5 linked regions of the Homo sapiens genome follow. The protein of the gene in region 2 purifies or fractionates together with the protein of the main gene of each other region. This does not show direct contact. Each region holds a gene or a part of one and is shown on either strand. Other genes may lie near its edges.

Region 1 (3,500 bases), on a different chromosome or scaffold from region 2:
CTCCTGCGGTCCCTCCTTCCCTGTCTCTCTCACCCCTGTTTCCACACCCTCACCTCCTACCACCCCCCTCAGCATGTTCCCTGGAAGCTGAGGGTCTCTGGGGCTCAGTCCCGGTCTCTCTCTTTCTCTCTCTCTCTCTCTGTCTCCCCGACCCTTCCCCCCAGCGTGTTCCCGAGGGAGCTGAAGGAGGTGTTTGCTTCGTGGCGGCTGCGCTGCGCAGAGCGAGGCCGGGAGGACATCGCAGACAGGCTTATCAGCGCCTCACTCTTCCTGCGCTTCCTCTGCCCAGCGATTATGTCGCCCAGTCTCTTTGGGCTTATGCAGGAGTACCCAGATGAGCAGACCTCACGAACCCTCACCCTCATTGCCAAGGTCATCCAGAACCTGGCCAACTTTTCCAAGTGAGGGAAGCTTCAGGAGTGGGCAGGGCAGGGAGTGGCAGGGCAGGGAGTGGCAGGGCTGGGGGTCGGCAAGAAGGGTCTCCTGAGTCCCCAGAGATCCTGAGATGGGGAGGCTATGATACCTTGTGTGTGTGTGTATGTGTGTGTATGTGTGTGTGTGTGTGTGTGTGTGTGTATGTGACCTTTATCTTCTGCATTCTTGGCTAGGTTTACCTCAAAGGAGGACTTTCTGGGCTTCATGAATGAGTTTCTGGAGCTGGAATGGGGTTCCATGCAGCAGTTTTTGTATGAGATCTCCAATCTGGACACGCTAACCAACAGCAGTAGCTTTGAGGGTTACATCGACTTGGGCCGAGAGCTCTCCACACTGCATGCCCTACTCTGGGAGGTGCTGCCCCAGCTCAGCAAGGTCAGCAGATCCCCTCTTTGCCCTATCCCCAGATGGCTCCAGAGGTTCCTGGAGCCTGAGAAACTACCCTTTGAAGATTTTTTTTCTCCCCTTGTTTCTCGAGGTGTCACCACTACTATCCCAACTCAGGCCCCCTCCACCTGCACCCTCAGAGGCCCTCTTAGAGCTGGGCACTGAGCCCCCAGGTAACAGCCTCACCCTTCCAGGAAGCCCTCCTGAAGCTGGGTCCACTGCCCCGGCTCCTCAACGACATCAGCACAGCTCTGAGGAACCCCAACATCCAAAGGCAGCCAAGCCGCCAGAGTGAGCGGCCCCGGCCTCAGCCTGTGGTACTGCGGGGGCCATCGGCTGAGATGCAGGGCTACATGATGCGGGACCTCAACAGGTGAGCACCCTGGGACAGCCAGGCCTGTGCCCTAGGAGCCCTTCTCCTATTCTAGATACTCCTCACTGGGCCCCACATGCATCTCTCTAGGGCTTGAAAGAAGGGAGGAAAAAGCACCAAGTTCTCAGGGGAGACGATAAGGAGACAGGTACAGTCAGTGGTAGGCTGAGAGCCCTTTACAGCCTGAGGGAGTGAGAGATTTGGAGCTCTAGGAATAGGGCTGAGGCTCCACCAACTCACGGCTTAGTTGTAAGCCTAGAGCATCCCTGCTGCAAGCTCTGATTTGCTGTCCCTCTGCCTGCCCATGCTAGTCCCCAGGCTGAGGTTCAGCCAGCATGTCATGTCAGCCATGTGTCAAAATGTTCAAACATCTCAGTAATAGCTAGTGAATAAGCACTTCCCCCAGCCCCCGACCACAACCCCACAGACCTCCCCATGATCCAGCACTTAGAGCAGTGACAGCAGAAGCCTAGCAGGGCCTGCAGCCTGCTCCAGAGTCCCAGCCTCCATTCTGATAGGTGGTGCCCGTGCTTCATTTGCTGCTCATTATTTTGATGATGGCCCTGCTTTTTCCTCTGCCCGTGTCTTCCTCCATGACACCATACCCATCCCACCATTCCCGCCTCTCCTTTCATTTGTCCACATCTCTCTCCTTCTCTGTCTGTGCTCGCCCCTCTTTCCATCTCTCTCCAGCTCCATCGACCTTCAGTCCTTCATGGCTCGAGGCCTCAACAGGTGAGGGGCTCTCCCCTCCCCCGCCCTCCTCTCCTCTCCTGTCTGTTCCCTCTCCCACTCCACTGGCCTTCGCCCTACTCCTCTCCTCTCCTCCTCCATGGACCTCATCTCCTCCATATGTGCCCAGCCCTGCCCCCATCCCTTCTCTTGCTGCCCCCATCTCCCCTCCTCTAGGCCTCACCCCCTTCCCGGAGGGGCCCTGTCCTTTCCCTTTACTCACCTGTCCCCTCCCATCCTCCCTGCCTGCCCTCTTCAGGGCTGCCACCGCTAGCTCTCAGCCCTTCCCTCTGGGTCCCACTTTTCACCCCAAGGCCTGTGCCAGACCACAGCAAGGTTCAATTGCTAGGAGCCCTGACCTTACCTTCTGCTTGTGTGCCCCCTTCCCTTCTGACAGCTCTATGGACATGGCTCGCCTCCCCTCCCCAACCAAGGAAAAGCCACCCCCACCACCGCCTGGTGGTGGTAAAGACCTGTTCTATGTAAGCCGTCCACCCCTGGCCCGTTCCTCACCAGCATACTGCACGAGCAGCTCGGACATCACAGAGCCAGAGCAGAAGATGCTGAGTGTCAACAAGAGTGTGTCCATGCTGGACTTACAGGGTGATGGGCCTGGTGGCCGCCTCAACAGCAGCAGTGTTTCGAACCTGGCGGCCGTAGGGGACCTGCTGCACTCAAGCCAGGCCTCGCTGACAGCAGCCTTGGGGCTACGGCCTGCGCCTGCCGGACGCCTCTCCCAGGGGAGTGGCTCATCCATCACGGCGGCTGGCATGCGCCTCAGCCAGATGGGTGTCACCACAGACGGTGTCCCTGCCCAGCAACTGCGAATCCCCCTCTCCTTCCAGAACCCTCTCTTCCACATGGCTGCTGATGGGCCAGGTCCCCCAGGCGGCCATGGAGGGGGCGGTGGCCATGGCCCACCTTCCTCCCATCACCACCACCACCACCATCACCACCACCGAGGTGGAGAGCCCCCTGGGGACACCTTTGCCCCATTCCATGGCTATAGCAAGAGTGAGGACCTCTCTTCCGGGGTCCCCAAGCCCCCTGCTGCCTCCATCCTTCATAGCCACAGCTACAGTGATGAGTTTGGACCCTCTGGCACTGACTTCACCCGTCGGCAGCTTTCACTCCAGGACAACCTGCAGCACATGCTGTCCCCTCCCCAGATCACCATTGGTCCCCAGAGGCCAGCCCCCTCAGGGCCTGGAGGTGGGAGCGGTGGGGGCAGCGGTGGGGGTGGCGGGGGCCAGCCGCCTCCATTGCAGAGGGGCAAGTCTCAGCAGTTGACAGTCAGCGCAGCCCAGAAACCCCGGCCATCCAGCGGGAATCTATTGCAGTCCCCAGAGCCAAGTTATGGCCCCGCCCGTCCACGGCAACAGAGCCTCAGCAAGGAGGGCAGCATTGGGGGCAGCGGGGGCAGCGGTGGCGGAGGGGGTGGGGGGCTGAAGCCCTCCATCACCAAGCAGGTAGGTGAAGGCAGGAGGAAGGCGGGCTGGGTCACAACAGGGAGGGAAGAAGGAGATGGGGGGTGGGGTTGAAACAGAGTCTGTGGCCTGAAGTTACAATCTTC
Region 2 (4,094 bases):
CACTTTAAATGCAATTAAATTGCAATGAAACTAACCAACAATTAGAATACAAAGAAAATTTACATTTATTATACCGCAAAAAAACTCATACATTTATAAATACCAGTAACATGCATAGAATTGGAATAAGATGGTTACTTTCTAATAAAAGGAGACACCTCCAATGGGCAAAGCAGTAAAAAAGGACTTTCCACAAATTAAACGAGACTAGCCTCAGTAGATCCTTATTAACACTTAAGTGAATTCAAAGCTCTTCCTGAAACTGGGATTTGCCTCGCTAACCCTCTCTGCACCCTGAGCAACGAAGTTGGGGATAATTGGCTTCAGGAACTTGAACTCATTTGTCCCGGAGCCTCCAGTCAGACACACCTCGTACTGGTAGCTCTGGGACAGGGTCCCGGTGCCGCTCACGTCCACCATCTGCCCTGGAAAGGGGCCCTCGGGCACCGAGCAGCGACCCACCGAGGCCGCCCTGCTCCTCCTGCACAGCCGCACCGCCACGAACAGGAGCACCGAGAAGAGGAAGAGCGAAGACACCGAGGCCAACGCCACCACCAGGTAGACGGTGAGCAAGTCGGCCTGGGCCTGGGCCGGTGCCGCCTCCGGGAGCAGCAGGTAGGGCTGGGAGAAGCCGTCCACCAGGAGCACGTGCAGCGTGGCGGTGGCCGAGCGCGGAGGCTCGCCATTGTCCTTGACCAGCACCACCAGCCTCTGCTTGGCAGCGTCGCGCTCCCTCAGCAGCCTGGCGGTGCGCACCTCGCCATTGTGCGCCCACACGCCGAACAGCCCGGGCTCCGTGGCCTTGAGCAGCTGGTACGACAGCCAGGCGTTCTGGCCCGAGTCGCCGTCCACCGCCACCACCTTGGTCACCAGGTAGCCCGGCTCGGCCGCCCGGGGCACCAGCTCGGTGCAGGGCGCGGAGCCGTTCTGCAGCGGGTACAGCACGAAGGGCGAGTTGTCGTTGGCGTCCAGCACCAGCACGCGCACCAGCGCCTCGCTGCTCAACGCCGGGGAGCCGCGGTCTGCGGCGCCCACGCGGAACTCGAACGCCTGCAGGGCCTCGTAGTCCAGCGACTGGAGAGCGAACAGGTGGCCGTTGTCCGCGTTGATGGAGACCAGGGAGGCGAGGGGCAGGTGCGGGTCCTGGGGCGGCAGCAGCGAGTAGGTGACCTGGGCGTTGGTGCCCGAGTCTCTGTCTGTGGCGCTGACGCTGCCGATGTGCAGGGCGGGGCTGTTGTTCTCGCGGACGAACAGGGTGTAGGAGGTTTGGGTGAAGGCGGGGGCGTTGTCATTGACGTCGGAGACCAGCACGGTTATGTTGTGCTCGGTTTTCAGCCTGGGTGTCCCGAAGTCGGTGACGGTGATGGTGATGTTGTATTCGGATCTGGTCTCCCGGTCCAGGGCCGTGCTTATCACCAGAGTGTAAAAGTTCTCAACAGAAGGTTTCAAGAAAAAAGGAAGATCATCTTGGATGGAGCACACCATCCTTCCGTTGTCTCCGGAGTCAGGATCTGAAACGCTGAATACAGCAATGAGGGTGTCCTGCAAGTTTTCTGGGATCTGATTGATAAGTGTCGACATAGTTAGTTCCGGAGGATTGTCATTCAAATCCATCACTTGGACAAATACCACACAAGTTCCAGATAGGCCCCCACCATCTGTCGCCTGAATATTTACTGTGTATGTCTGGATGGATTCGAAATCCAGTTTCTGTCTTAAAAGCAGTTCTCCCGATTTTGCACTTAATCGAAACGTTTTGCGAATGTCTTCAGATGCTTGGGAAAATGCATAAGATATTTCTCCATTAGTTCCAATGTCTAAATCCCTGGCAGAGACGATGGCAACCTGGGATCCAACGGGGCTGTCCTCCGGGATCTGCACCTCATAGAGCAGCTTTGCAAACTCTGGGACGTTGTCATTGATGTCCACAACTTCAATCCGTACCAGGGCCGTGCCGGACCTGGGTGGACTCCCGCCATCTAGCGCTGTGAGGGTTAACCTGATCTCAGGCTGCTCCTCGCGATCCAGGGCTCTGTTCAGCACCAGCTGTGGTAATATTATGCCATCGAGACTGTCTTGTAAATTAAGATGAAAGTGGAAATTGGGACTGATTGTGTAATTTTGGAGACTGTTGGTTCCTACATCCAAGTCCTGGGCACGTTCTATTAAGAAAGTAGTTCCAGGAGTGATACTTTCTGGAATTTTCAAAAGTATTTCTTTGTCTAGGAAAACTGGGGAATGATCATTTACGTCCCTAATCCGTAGCTCCGCCTGAAAAAACTGCAAGGGATTTTCTAGTAACACCTGGAAAGGTAGGACACAGGGCTCTGTGGGGCCGCACAGCTCCTCCCGGTCCAATTTCTCATTTAACAACAAATCCCCGGTCTGCCTATCGAACTGCAAATGCATTTTTTTTCCTTTGGAAACGACCCTGGCCCCCCTCACAGCAAGTTCTCCTATCTCCAGCCCCAGGTCTTTTAACAAATTGGCCACAAAGGAGCCACTCTCCGTTTCCTCGGCCACTGAATAGTGCCTAGGCTGGCAACTAGCCTGAGCTATGCCCAGCAAAACAAAGAATATCAGGACTTGCCTTTGTTTCGGAACGCGCTCCTTCCCCTCTCCGGCCTCCATTGCTTTCTGGTCTCTCACCAAACGTGCTCCAGCTCTGGCTCACGTTGTCGCTAACTCTATCTCCCCGTATCTCGCTGATACTGGGATGAGTGGACAATCCTAGGGCCCGGATTTCCCGGAGCGACCGCCTTAGAAAGCCTCCTCTTCCTGCTTGCTGCTTCTTTAGCTGAGTATCTGGGTAAGGGAGCGTCGGCTGGGTGCTTTGTTTCTGCTACTTCTAAGGCTGCAGCGCCACCCCGCGTCTCTTCCGAGTATTTATTTTCTCCTAAACTTTAAGAAAATCCCAGTGCTTTCTTTCAGGCTGATGGCAATCGAAATTGAGTATTTTCAAGTAGTGTCTCTCAGTGTACCGAAGTCTTATTGGCGTTTCGAAAGGCTCTTCATTGCACCCATAGAGACAGGGCAAGAATAAATAAATCTTCACTTCCCTCACAAATCCAAGCTTTTTTTTTTTTTCAAACTGGAAAAAATAAATTTCAGAACCTGGAAGGGAGTGATCTCAGTCCTAGCATGCTTCGGAAAGAAGGCTTAGACTAAGAAAGTTCTATTTTTATTCAGAGTTTGGGCATGTGTGCAACTCAGTGGTGGTTAGATTACCATCATCACACTCAAACCCAGCTGAAAAACAGAGACCCAGGAAAAGCACAGAATCCAAATAAGAGTATTTTAATGGGCACTGAAATAGTCTCCTTACTCATATTTCTTTCTTTGCACTGCTCCCACTTCACATTTTCCTGAACTTTGATGTGTCTGAGCCTCATGAAACTCTCCAAGAGCAGCCAGATATTTCCTTATTGTAAATGTATCAATATTATTTTCCTTTCTAATGCCTAGGAGAACTTTCAACATAACCTCAATTCAATTACCACATCTAGCAAAGAGCAATTTCATAATATTAAATAGCCAGTAAATATTCCAGTTTCCCCAATTATCTTTAAAAATGTCTTTTCAGTGATGGTTTCTTCAATCTGCTTCCAAACAGGGTATATATGTCATTGTTTGTTGTTAGGTTTTTTAATTTTGTCTTTTTGTTTCTTTTTTAATGTTAATATAAAGAAGTTATCAAGCCACAGAATGACATGAAGGAAACTTAAATGCATATTTCTCAGTGAAAGAATCCAGTCTGAAAAGGCAATGATACTGTATAATTCAAATTACATGATACTCTGAAAAAGGCCAAATTATAGAGACATTTAAAAGACAAGTGATAGCTAGGAAGAAGAGGGAGGGGGATGAAGAGGTTAAACATGGGGTACTTTACGATACTACAATGGTAGATACATGACATTATGCCGTTGTCAAAATCCACAGAACTATACAACACAAAGAGTGAACACTAAACTATGAAATTTAGTTAATAATTTACCAGTATTGGCTCATCAATTGTAACAAATGTACCACAGTAATGCAAGATTTTGATAACAGGGAAACTTTGAGTGGGAGAAAATCGGTATGTGAGGGGA
Region 3 (3,518 bases), on a different chromosome or scaffold from region 2:
ACTTTTTCTTTCATGCGTTTGTCAACCTTCAAGTCCAGTGAGGCATCCTTATCTGAGCTTTCGTTTCCAAGGTCTTCCACCAGGGTATCCTCCATGGGAACTTTTTCCTTGGCACGTTCTTTGGCCTTCAAATCCAGTGGGGTGTCCTAATCTGAAATTTCATTGGCGAGGTCTTCCAGAGGATCCTCCATGGCACCTTTTTCCTTGGCACATTCATTGGCCTTCCAAAGCCATGGGGCATTTTCATCTGAGCTTTCACTGGCTTGGTATCCTTCCAGGATATCTTCCATGTGAACACTTGCCTGAGTTGCTGAGTCTGTCAAGTGAACAGCAAGAACCTGTTCAGAGGAAGTGTCGCTGGTCTGCTCCCCTGCCAGGTTGTCCTTGAAATCTTCAGATGGCTACCTGCCAGGGTGCACATGAGGATGACACCTGCGGTGGCACATTCTCTCTCTAAAACTGCGCTGGCAGACCATGGATTCGCCATGGACAGTGGAGTCTCCTGAAACCTGAGTATCCACTGCTGCATCTTGGAGGCAATACTCTAGCCTTCACGAGCACCCTTCTACTCCAGTCAGGCTGAAGTCTCCCTCGCTGTCACCGCCACAACTGTAGGAGGTGAGCCACAGAGCCGTGCCATCTGCAAGCTCCAAACTCCACCTCACCACAGGTGACTCCTCCTTCACTTTCTCCTCCAGCCTTTCTCAGAGTGGCTGGGCGGGCAAAGCCAGAAAAGCCACTCTGGCCACACTGCAGCCTCTGTTGCCACCACCAACTGCAGTGAGGCAAGCCATGGTGCCACAGGCTCCAACCTCCAGCATGTGGCAGGTGATTCCCCTTCCCCTTCTCCTGGTTCTCTAAGCCAGGAACAGAGTAGCTCGGTGGGCAGATACAGAAGAGCCTAAAATCTGTTGTACTATTTTAAGAAAAACTTCTCTTGCCTGTAATCCCAGCACTTTGGGAGGCCGAGGTGGGTGGATCACCCAAAGTCAGGAATTCAAGACCAGCCTGGCCAACATAGCAAAACCTCATCGCTACTAAAAATACAAAAAACAAAAAACAAACAAAAAAAAATTAGCTGGATATTGTAGTGCGTGCCTGTTATCCCTGCTCTTTGGGAGGCTGAGGCAGGAGAATCACTTGAACCTGTGTTAGAATCAAAATGCTTGTTTCTTGGTGTCGCAAGGAAAAATTAGCATTCAGACAAAAAGTTTTCTCAGCAAGGCAATTTTACTTTCTGTAGAAAGGGTGCTGCCCATCAGCAATCCTGCCAGGAGAGCACAATGAACAAAGAAAGGCAGGAATATTTATCCCTTATGCATTGGGTCCTTACTGCTGTGTCCTGTCTCCATTGGTTGGAGCTGGACCTCACAGTCTAAGCTAAACCCAATTGGCTAACAACTTAAAAAACTTTCTTAAATAGGTAAAGGCAATGGAGAACAAAGGAAAAGAGGAAGTTGCTTGCCAAAAGACTTGGAGAAGTAATAACATTTCCAAATAAGGAAAGGGCATAAGCTGTGAGCTGGGACATGCTTGAGCACGTCGAGACCAAATATCTTGGTTAACGTACAAGGACACAGAAGGTACTTATTTCCTTATATCTAACAACTACATAAGATATGGTTTAAAAAAGAGTTACTAACACAAAGCAAAGAGGCTTAAAAAAAGTTAATTAAAAATATTATTTCTAACACTTGTGATTTATTATTTAATAAAAACTTTAAAGAGAAACTTTTTTACTTTCCACAACCTAGAAGGTGGAGGTTGCTGTGAGCCAAGATGGCACCACTACACTCCAGTCTGGGTGACAGAGGGAGACTCCATTTCCAAAATAATAAAGTATGTTTTTTAAAAAAAACTTTTCTGTAGTCTTGAAATTTTATTTATTTATTTATTTATTTATTTTTTGAGACAGAGTCTCACTCTGTTGCCCAGGCTAGAGTGCAGTGGCATGATCTGGGCCCACTTTAGACTCAACCTCCTCGTCTCAAACAATCCTCCCACCTCAGGCTTCTGGGTAGCTGGAACCACAGCACACACCACCACACCTGGCTACTTTTTTGATTTTTTTTTTTTTTTTGGAGACAGAGTCTCACTCTGTCCCCCAGGCTGGAGTGCAGTGACATGATCTTGGCTCACTGCAACCTCTGCCTCCCGGGTTCAAACAATTCTTTTACCTCAGCCTCCAGAGTAGCTGGGACTACAGGTGCAGGCTGCCATGCCCGGCTAATTTTTCGTATTTTAGTAGAGACAGGGTTTCACCGTGTTGCCCAGGCTGGTCTCGAACTCCTGAGCTCAGGCAATCTGCCTGCCTTGGCCTCCCAAATTGCTAGGATTACAGGCGTAAGCCAGCATGCCTGGCCTACTTTTTAAATTTTTTTGTAGAGATGAAGACTCCCTCTATTGCCCAGGGTGATCTCAAACTCGTGGGCTCAAGTCATCCTCCTGCCTCAGCCTCCCAAATTGCTAGGATTATAGGTGTAAGCCACTGTGCCTGTCCTGAAATTTTTAAAATAAAATTTTAAATAAACATTTTTAAAATGAAGATATTGCATGGGTGTACGTGGGTATCATATGGATGTATCAAGCTCTTTGGGTTTCTTAAAACTTTTCAGGATTAAAAATACCCTGATTTTGCAAAGCACTTCATAATTAGAATCACTTGTAGAAGTTTACCAAAGGTGGCCTGGCCAGGCATGGTGGCTCACGCCTATAATCCCAGCACCTTGGGAGGCCAAGGCAGTTGGATCACCTGAGGTCAGGAGTTCAAGAGCAGTCTGGCCAACATGATGAAACCTTGTCTCTCTAAAAATAGAAAAATTAGTCAGGTGTGGTGGCAGTCACCTGTAATCCCAGCTACACAGGAGGCTGAGGCAGGAGAATCACTTGAACCTGGGAGATGGAGGTTGCAGTGAGCTGAGATCGCACCATTGCACTCCAGCCTGGGGGACGAGCGAGACTTCGTCTCCAAAAAAAAAAAAAAAAAAGTTTACCAAAGGTGAAATACACAACGCATTTAGCATTCATACAGCTCTTTGGTATTAAAAATCACATTTTGGGCCAGGCGCAGTAGCTCATGCCTATAATCCCAGCACTTTGGGAGGCCGAGGCAGGTGGATCAGCTGAGGTCAGGAGTTCGAGACCAGCCTGGCCAACATGGCCAACATGGCGAAACCCTGTCTACACTAAAAATTCAAAAATTAGCTGGACGTGGTGGCACGTACTTGTAGTCCCATCTACTTGGGAGGCTAGGGCTGGAGAATCACTTGAACCTCAGTGGCGGAGGTTGCAGTGAGCTGAGATTGTGCCATTGCACTCTAGCCTGGGCAACAGAGCGAAACTCCATCTCAAAAAAAACAAAAAAAGAAGAAGAAAATCACATTTTGGGCCAGGTGTGGTGGCTCATGTCTATAATCCTAGTACTTTGGGAGGCAGAGGCGGGCGGATTGCCTGAGCTCAGGAGTTCGAGACCAGCCTGGGAAACATGGCGAAACCCCGTCTCTACTAAAAATAGAAAA
Region 4 (3,518 bases), on a different chromosome or scaffold from region 2:
GAAAAGAAACTTGGAAACTTAATAAAAACACACACATTTTTAAAAGTCTAAAAATGTATGTACAATTATAGACCAAAAATTACCCCTCTTTGATTTATAAGACTGTGTCTGGTTCTTGCATTATTTTTCTTAGAAAGAAAAAAAATGATATAAGAGCATTTGTGATTCAAAAGTGCTCATTAATGAATATTTTGAGTTGACACAATACTGGAAAATAGCCAGTTTTGTCGAATTGAATTTTCTTGGAATAGGCAATACCTATCATTTTCAAAACAGAAGATTTTACACAAACAAATATAAGTTGATTTTCTATTCTAAAACCAGTAAAGGAGTAAAGTCTAACATATAACTTTTGGGCTATAGGTAGCCCACCTAGCTTTGCATTGTATGTGGCCCATAATCTAATTTCAGGAATGTCCTGATCTTAACATGGAAAATTGTAACACAGAGAAGGCCTAACTCAGTTTTGCCTTGTTGTAGCTTAGCACTTATGCAGTGCTTTGCTGCCTTCCTGGCCAAAAGTTCTGAGAGCTGATTAGTGTACCCTGAGAAGGGTTTGTGTGAATTAAGCATGCAGTTTTCAAAATGAACTTTAAATCTTTACAATAACTGCTGCAAGTAAGAAAAGTAGCTGATGAGTATTGTGCATTTCAAAATAAATAGACTACTCATTTTGTGTTATGTGTCATATGCAGTTTCAAATATGTCATTTTGAAAATACAATATTGACATACCCTATTGAGACAAACCACATTTTATAATTTCATTGATTAAAAACTCTTTCATAGAAAAACCAAACTAATTCAGCTTTAAGAGTGACTTAATTAGACACTATAGTGTTTGCTATTAGTTTTCACAACTTTAGTTAAGAAGATGAAATCATTCTTTGATAGAAAAAAAAAGATAAATGAGCAGGCATACATATATAGTTGAAGATATTTCCTGATTTAAAATTTTTATTTTTCCCAAGTCAGGCTTCCTGGATAAAAATTATTGTTCACAACTGCTGATAAATAATTCTTAGGTCAATGTTTTCTGTTTTAGTTTAATTTGCTTTGCTTTATTTTTTAGGAAGATGGGAAATTGAAGAGTTGAAAGAAAACCAGGTACCTGGTGACAGAGGACTGGTATTAAAATCTAGAGCAAAGCATCATGCAATATCTGCTGTATTAGCAAAACCATTCATTTTTGCTGATAAACCCTTGATAGTTCAGTAAGTGTTGCTATGTTTTTGAATACTTTTTCTGAATTTTGTATTAGCTTTGGCTTCTGAATATAGCTTGTATTTTGAAAATGGATGTGAAAATCTAGATCTTCCTTTTTCGTTTCACTTAGTTAAAACACAAATGTGCATATACACACAAACATATCCATGCTTTCAATAAAAAGCAGGTAAATGATAAAATTATACAAAGATCAACCATTCTTATGGCCTAGTACTAATATTTATATTTGTTTATTTCAAGGAGTTGTATGTGGGCTATTAAGCAGCATATTTCCTTTGGTCTGAGTGCTTGTATTGACTAAATGAGGAATAAATAGTTTGGCTCTCTTAAAAAAATTTAAAAATTATGTGATATATACTGTAATATATACAATTCTGCTGTCATAAACTATATAATGCATAGTAAAAATCACCATTTTTGTTTTACTCTTAAAATTACTTGTTATCGCCGGGCGCGGTGGCTCACGCCTGTAATCCCAGCACTTTGGGAGGCCGAGGCGGGCAGATCACGAGGTCAGGAGATCGAGACCATCCTGGCTAAAACGGTGAAACCCCGTCTCTACTAAAAATACAAAAAATTAGCCGGGCGTAGTGGCGGGCGCCTGTAGTCCCAGCTACTTGGGAGGCTGAGGCAGGAGAATGGCGTGAACCCGGGAGGCGGAGCTTGCAGTGAGCCGAGATCCCGCCACTGCACTCCAGCCTGGGCGACAGAGCGAGACTCCGTCTCAAAAAAAAAAATAAAAAAAAAAATAAAAATAAAAAAAATTACTTGTTATCAAAATATTAAACAATATATTCAGAACAGAATAATAAAAATTGCTATTAAACCAGTGATAAGATTCAAAGGCAGAAAATTTATTTCAAAAATAAATGTTTATGAATACCAGTGTCTTTCAAGCAGGGACCCCTTTTAAAGGTCACATTCTCACAGATAATCCTTTCTTTCAACCTCTCCACCTCCCCACCATGCCTGGCATGGTGCCTCATGCCTCATGTGTGTAATCCCAGCACTTTGGGAGGCCTAGGTGGGCAGACAGCTTGAACCCAGGAGTTCAAGACCAACCTGGCAACATGGCAAAACCCCGACTCTACAAAAAAATTTTAAAAATTAGCCAGGCATGGTGGTGCCCGACTGTAGTCCCAGCTACTCTGGAGGCTGAGGTGGGAGGATCACCTAAGCCCAGGAAGTCGAGGCTGCAGTGAGCCAAGGTCACACCAGTGCATTGCAGCCTGGGTGACAGAATGAGATCTTGCCTCAAAAAAAAAGAAAGAAAGAAAAAAAAAGAGGACCAAGAATTGAATAGCAGTCTTTCATATGTTTAAAAACAATTCAAAGGAGAGTGAATGTTTGTCTCCTCTTAATATTGATAAAATGAAATGGGGTAAATAAAATGAAGAGATTTATATTCAATGCTATAAATGCTGATTTACAACATAACTTTACTATAAAGCTGCTTTTCCCAAATTGTATACATGTTAATATATATGAATATAATTAAAGATGAAGAATATCCTAACTCAAAACGTAGGAAGTAAAGGCCTGGCGCAGTGCTTCACACCTGTAATCCCAGCACTTTGGGAGGCCAAGGTGGGTGGATCACGAGGTCAGGAGATCAAGACCATCCTGTCTAACATGGTGAAACCCTGTCTCTACTAAAAATACAAAAAATTAGCCGGGTGTGGTGGCAGGCGCCTGTAGCCCCAGCTACTCGGGAGGCTGAGGCAGGAGAATGGCGTGAACCCGGGAGGCAGGGCTTGCAGTGAGCCGAGATCATGCCACTGCACTCCAGCCTGGGCAACTGGGCAACAGAGTGAGACTGTCTCAAAAAAAAAATAAATAAATAAATAAAAATAAAATTAAAAAAGGAAGTATGTTAGCTCATTAAAGACTGAGAAGTTCTACATATGAAAACCTGTTTTCAGCATTACTACTGTGTTTCCCAAACACATTTGATCACATAAGTTTATTTTCCCACCTAACAGTAATTGCTATTTCATGGAACAATTTGAGAAATGATACTCTAAAGAAATTAAGGTTACCATATACTCTGCATATGTCCTTGGTTTTCCTATGACTGGAAGTTTAGCAGTAGTCAAGCTGTATGATAAACATTTTGTTGATCCTCTAATCCATTGTGAATCATTTATACTAGGTAAAAGTTAATTATTTGAAAACTCTAAAAGTTTGCAGTATAAGAAATGGACAAGGTGATTGAATCTAGGCATAATGGAACAATGAAACTGTGTTCACATTTATGCAGCCACTGTACAAAATTGTTTTTTCCAATTCTTA
Region 5 (4,291 bases), on a different chromosome or scaffold from region 2:
CACAGTGGTGAGATCACACCCCCCTGCAGCACTGTGAAGAAGGGGAGGCCGCGAGCTGGGTGGGCACCCACTCCCTGCATCTAGGATATGTATGCAAATTAATATATGCAAATTAAGTATCCTAAACGACCCACCCAAAGATTGGGACGCCTGGGACCCTTCCCCCAGGAGGTGAAATATCTTTAATCCCCTCCTACCCCTCTCCCTCCCTATCTTTCTGAGCCTCCCCCATCCAGACTGGGTGCAGGGGTGCAGAGCTTTCCTCTCCAGCAGGGCTCTAAGCCTAAGCCGGGGGCAATGGGGAGGAGGGGTGTCTGAGGAGCACTCCCTCTCCCTGGGAGCTCTGCAGAGGAAGAGGGTCTCTGGCAATCAGCATCCTCTACCTCCACCTCTCCAGCGGGCGACCCCTCAGAGAAGGTCTCCCAGTGAGTCTGGAATACGTGCCGAGTGCCTGGAGTGCTATTGTGTGTATGTGAGAGCACATTGGTGAGGCTGCCCATGCATGCCACTGTGGACAAAGACAGATGCGATCGTGTGTGTGTGGGGACTGCGTATATGTTTTTGTCAGTGTGTGTGACCACGAGTCAGCTGGGTATGTGTGCTTGTGGGTATCAGGTGCATGGCTGTGCGTACATGTGTGCGTAAGAGTCGGTGCATTTGTGTTTCAGCGCGGCTAAGGCCCTGACTGAGATGCTGTGTGTGCGGGGGTGGGTGTGACTGAATGCGGGCACGGGTGTCCGTCTGTTTATACGTGTGTTTGCGTGTTTGGGTGTGCAGGTGGCTCTGCGTAAGCGTCTGTGTGCAGGGGGTCGGCACATGGGGGAGGATGCCCATGGTTGGGTAACCGCAGGTCCGCTTGACCCTCTGCCACCTAGGACTGTGTCTATACGGCGTCTGGGCTACAGTGTGTTTGAGTTGCCGTGTGCGTTTCCGTTGCGGGGTGTGGGTTGCCACGGGGCAACTGCATTTTTCTGCGTCTTCATGGCCAGGGGTACAGGGGGCGTCGGGCTTTTCCTGGGGGTTTTTCTGTGTGCGTGTGTAATTATGTGCTTAGTTCACATCTTCATAGTGCGCCTTTGTGTTTTCCTGGGTATCTAACCATTGCACGTGTGCCCGGGACTTCAGCGATAAGTGTTTCGGTGTTCCTGCGTGCGGATTTGTGCTCTCCGGGGAGGTCTGCGGCCCAGGTTCGATTCCTGCGACTTGTCCTAGGCAGGCCTGTATGTGCGCGGCGGCCGCGTGCTGTACAGTGTGAGGGAACGTGTACCAAACGCTCGCGGGATACCTGTGCCCGTCTAGCCAAGAGTGCACCCGTGTGCGCGAGCGGGCTTCTGGGACGCCGCCGTGGTCGGGGGCGGCCCTGCGAGGGGAGGGGGTCACAGGGACTGGCCGGCGCCGGCCCCGTGCGCACGGAGGCGGGGGCGGGGGGCGGGGGCCGCGAGGGGGGAGGCGGTACGAAAAGGGCGGCGCGCGCGGCGGCGGCGGCAGCTCCCCGGCAGCGGCGGTGGAGAGCGCAGCGCGCAGCCCGGTGCAGCCCTGGCTTTCCCCTCGCTGCGCGCCCGCGCCCCCTTTCGCGTCCGCAACCAGAAGCCCAGTGCGGCGCCAGGAGCCGGACCCGCGCCCGCACCGCTCCCGGGACCGCGACCCCGGCCGCCCAGAGATGACCGCGACCGAAGCCCTCCTGCGCGTCCTCTTGCTCCTGCTGGCTTTCGGCCACAGCACCTATGGTGAGTTCCCCGGCGGCCCGGCTCGCGCCCCCTCTGGGGAAGCCTGCGACTCCCCGCCGGCCGCCCGGTGCCCCGCACGCCCCGTCTCGTGAGCCCCAACTCCGCCCGTCCCGCCTAGCCCTAAGCCCCGCGCTGTGCCTGTCTCGCCCTACCCACCACGCTCGCATGCCAAGGCCCGTCCCAGGGGTCCCAGGGCGCAGGGGATGTGTGAGACCCCCAGCCCCTTCCCGCCCTGCAGAAGTGGCGCCAGAGGGGTGTCGGTGCGCTGAGCAAGGAGGTATGGAAAAATGGGGTGCTGTTGTGGAGTCTTCTATGAAAATACTCTGGGGTGCAACTTTGGGGTGTCCCTGTGTGAGCGTTCTGGAACAGGTCTCGGGGCGGGAGTGGGGGACGACTTTGCCGTCTTAGCCCCCAATTCCCAGAGAAGCCCAGCCTGAGCCCTTCCTGCGTGGCGCGTTTCTGTAGGTGAGGGGCTGCGACACTTCTGTCTGCAGCGGCCATCTGTCTCTGACAGCGAGAGAGTTGCCCCCTTCCTGCAGCGCCCCCCCACTCATTGCACCAGTGGTTGTAAGGGGGCTGTCTAGAAAGCTGGGGAGCTGGTTGAGTAAATGCACACAGTAGGTGCCTGTTAAAGTGTCAGAATCTCTAAGCAGTGTTGTTGCAACCTCAGCCCGCTAAGCAAAACCCTGTGTCGTCATCGTTTTTTTAATGCGAAGAGTCTGGGGTAGGGGAAAGAGGGAAGATTTGACCTGGGTGCCCGGCTTAATAGGGATGAACCTTAAAAAGAATGCAGACGCCTTACTGGGGCGCCCACCAGGTGAACCTGTCTGGGCTTTCCCGGAGTTGAACACCTCAAAATCTGCTCCTCTTTTCAGCTCAGGTTGCAAAAGTGACGGTCAGGCTGCATGCCCAGGGCTCAACATATTTCCCTCCACGGTCCCCGTCCCCGCTGTTAGGAGGACTTGAGGTGTCGTATTTGCTTTTGGGAGTCCGAGGAGAAGGTGTTTCTCCTGCTCCTAAGAACGAGGGAGAGTGTACTGTGGTCATTTCATTGCTGGGAACGTGGCAGAGATGTTTTTCCTGAGTGCACTGAGCCCCATCCATGCTCGGATAGGAAGTGCCTACTGTGTGCCAGGCTGGTAGGACCCAAGAGGGCTGTTGGTGCCCTCGAGGGCAGTGGTGGGCTGTGTGGGCGAAGACAGCCTTTGCCTTGGCCTGGGGCCTGGTGGGGTGAATTGTATAACCTTTCTTGTACCTCAGGGGCTGAATGCTTCCCGGCCTGCAACCCCCAAAATGGATTCTGCGAGGATGACAATGTTTGCAGGTAATAGAGTGGCTCCTCAGAGGCAGCTTGTAGGGGCCACGCAGAAGCCTGGGGAGTCGTGAAGTCAGGCAGAAAAAAATAGGGGGCTTGGCCACTACGCTGCAGCAAACAGCTTCCGGGCCCCTGCAGAAAACTGGTGGGGCGAGCTGGGGAGATGGGGGGGGCGGGGGGGGGGCAGCCACAGCTCCTGTCTGCGTTCTCAGAGGTGGGGGGGCAGGTGGGACCACTGCAGGCCACTGCGGCAAAACGCAGCACTCCCCCGGGATCTCGGGGCCCCTCCAAGTCGGCCCCCTCAGCTTGGCATGTTTTCTCTTTAAGTTTTCCCATTCAGGTGGCTGGTGTTTACTTCCCAGGACCACCGGCTGCCACTGTGCAAAGACCCCCAAGGGTCCTTGGTTCCACAGAAAGTAGCCTGAGCTGCCTCTCTACCCCTGCCCTCTTCATATGTCCCCACCTTTCTCCCCCACCCATTGCAGGTGCCAGCCTGGCTGGCAGGGTCCCCTTTGTGACCAGTGCGTGACCTCTCCCGGCTGCCTTCACGGACTCTGTGGAGAACCCGGGCAGTGCATTTGCACCGACGGCTGGGACGGGGAGCTCTGTGATAGAGGTTGGCACTCGCCTTTGTTCACCTCAGCTCTGCGTCCTTACCTGCCTGCCCTAGCCCCTACCACCTCCTCCCAGTCTCCTGTTGCTGGTGTTCCTCACTTCCTCATTCCTGCACACTCCGTGCCCTGTATTCTAAAGATCTGTTTATAAATTTCCTGTGGGTACCGAATGCCTCCTCAGAGGTAGGGACTTTATTTTGCTCTTCTCTGCGCCATCAGCACCCAGCACCTAGAGGGAACATGGCGTGGGGGCCAGGGAGCTGCCTGTTGAATAAAGAGTCACAAAATACACATACAGCTGGGCCGGTGGGACCACAGACCCCAGGCTGCCTGTCCAGGTCATGGAAGCCCAGTGATGGACAGGGCTCTGGGGATCTCAGAGCTAAGACTCCCTAGAAAAGCACACGCAAGACTGTAAAGAGGCTGCAAACAAACAAACGGGGTGGGGGGTGGCCAGCACTGCTCAGTGGTTGAGGGGCAGGTGCTGAGTCAGGGCCAGGAGGACAGGGCTGGGGGGCCTGGACTGAGTGGGTCAGGTGTAGGGGGAGGCTGCAGTTGGGAAAAGCTGAGAAAGGGTTAAAGTGAAGATGGGTGTTATCTGTTGATTTCATTAATTTATGCAATCTTTGCCTCCA

What was found.
Region 1: the proteins of PCDHB2 (region 2) and SYNGAP1 purify together in Homo sapiens (co-immunoprecipitation; one large-scale study listed by IntAct). This does not show direct contact.
Region 3: the proteins of PCDHB2 (region 2) and DKKL1 purify together in Homo sapiens (co-immunoprecipitation; one large-scale study listed by IntAct). This does not show direct contact.
Region 4: the proteins of PCDHB2 (region 2) and CLGN purify together in Homo sapiens (co-immunoprecipitation; one large-scale study listed by IntAct). This does not show direct contact.
Region 5: the proteins of PCDHB2 (region 2) and DLK1 purify together in Homo sapiens (co-immunoprecipitation; one large-scale study listed by IntAct). This does not show direct contact.

Annotation. Positions count from the first base shown.
Region 1 is NC_000006.12:33,440,565-33,444,064, forward strand, and holds part of SYNGAP1 (ras/Rap GTPase-activating protein SynGAP), read left to right. Parts: intron 1-164; coding exon 165-401; intron 402-608; coding exon 609-810; intron 811-1,016; coding exon 1,017-1,195; intron 1,196-1,888; coding exon 1,889-1,930; intron 1,931-2,324; coding exon 2,325-3,396; intron 3,397-3,500. UniProt on the Homo sapiens protein: Major constituent of the PSD essential for postsynaptic signaling. Inhibitory regulator of the Ras-cAMP pathway.
Region 2 is NC_000005.10:141,093,328-141,097,421, reverse strand, and holds the start of PCDHB2 (protocadherin beta-2 precursor), read right to left. Parts: upstream 2,808-4,094; 5' UTR 2,632-2,807; coding exon 235-2,631; 3' UTR 1-234. UniProt on the Homo sapiens protein: Potential calcium-dependent cell-adhesion protein. May be involved in the establishment and maintenance of specific neuronal connections in the brain.
Region 3 is NC_000019.10:49,366,876-49,370,393, reverse strand, and holds part of DKKL1 (dickkopf-like protein 1 isoform 1 precursor), read right to left. Parts: intron 1,690-3,518; exon of another isoform or gene 1-1,689. UniProt on the Homo sapiens protein: Involved in fertilization by facilitating sperm penetration of the zona pellucida. May promote spermatocyte apoptosis, thereby limiting sperm production. In adults, may reduce testosterone synthesis in Leydig cells.
Region 4 is NC_000004.12:140,403,637-140,407,154, reverse strand, and holds part of CLGN (calmegin precursor), read left to right. Parts: intron 1-1,071; coding exon 1,072-1,213; intron 1,214-3,518. UniProt on the Homo sapiens protein: Functions during spermatogenesis as a chaperone for a range of client proteins that are important for sperm adhesion onto the egg zona pellucida and for subsequent penetration of the zona pellucida.
Region 5 is NC_000014.9:100,725,409-100,729,699, forward strand, and holds the start of DLK1 (protein delta homolog 1 isoform 1 preproprotein), read left to right. Parts: upstream 1-1,483; 5' UTR 1,484-1,660; coding exon 1,661-1,727; intron 1,728-2,987; coding exon 2,988-3,051; intron 3,052-3,527; coding exon 3,528-3,658; intron 3,659-4,291. UniProt on the Homo sapiens protein: May have a role in neuroendocrine differentiation.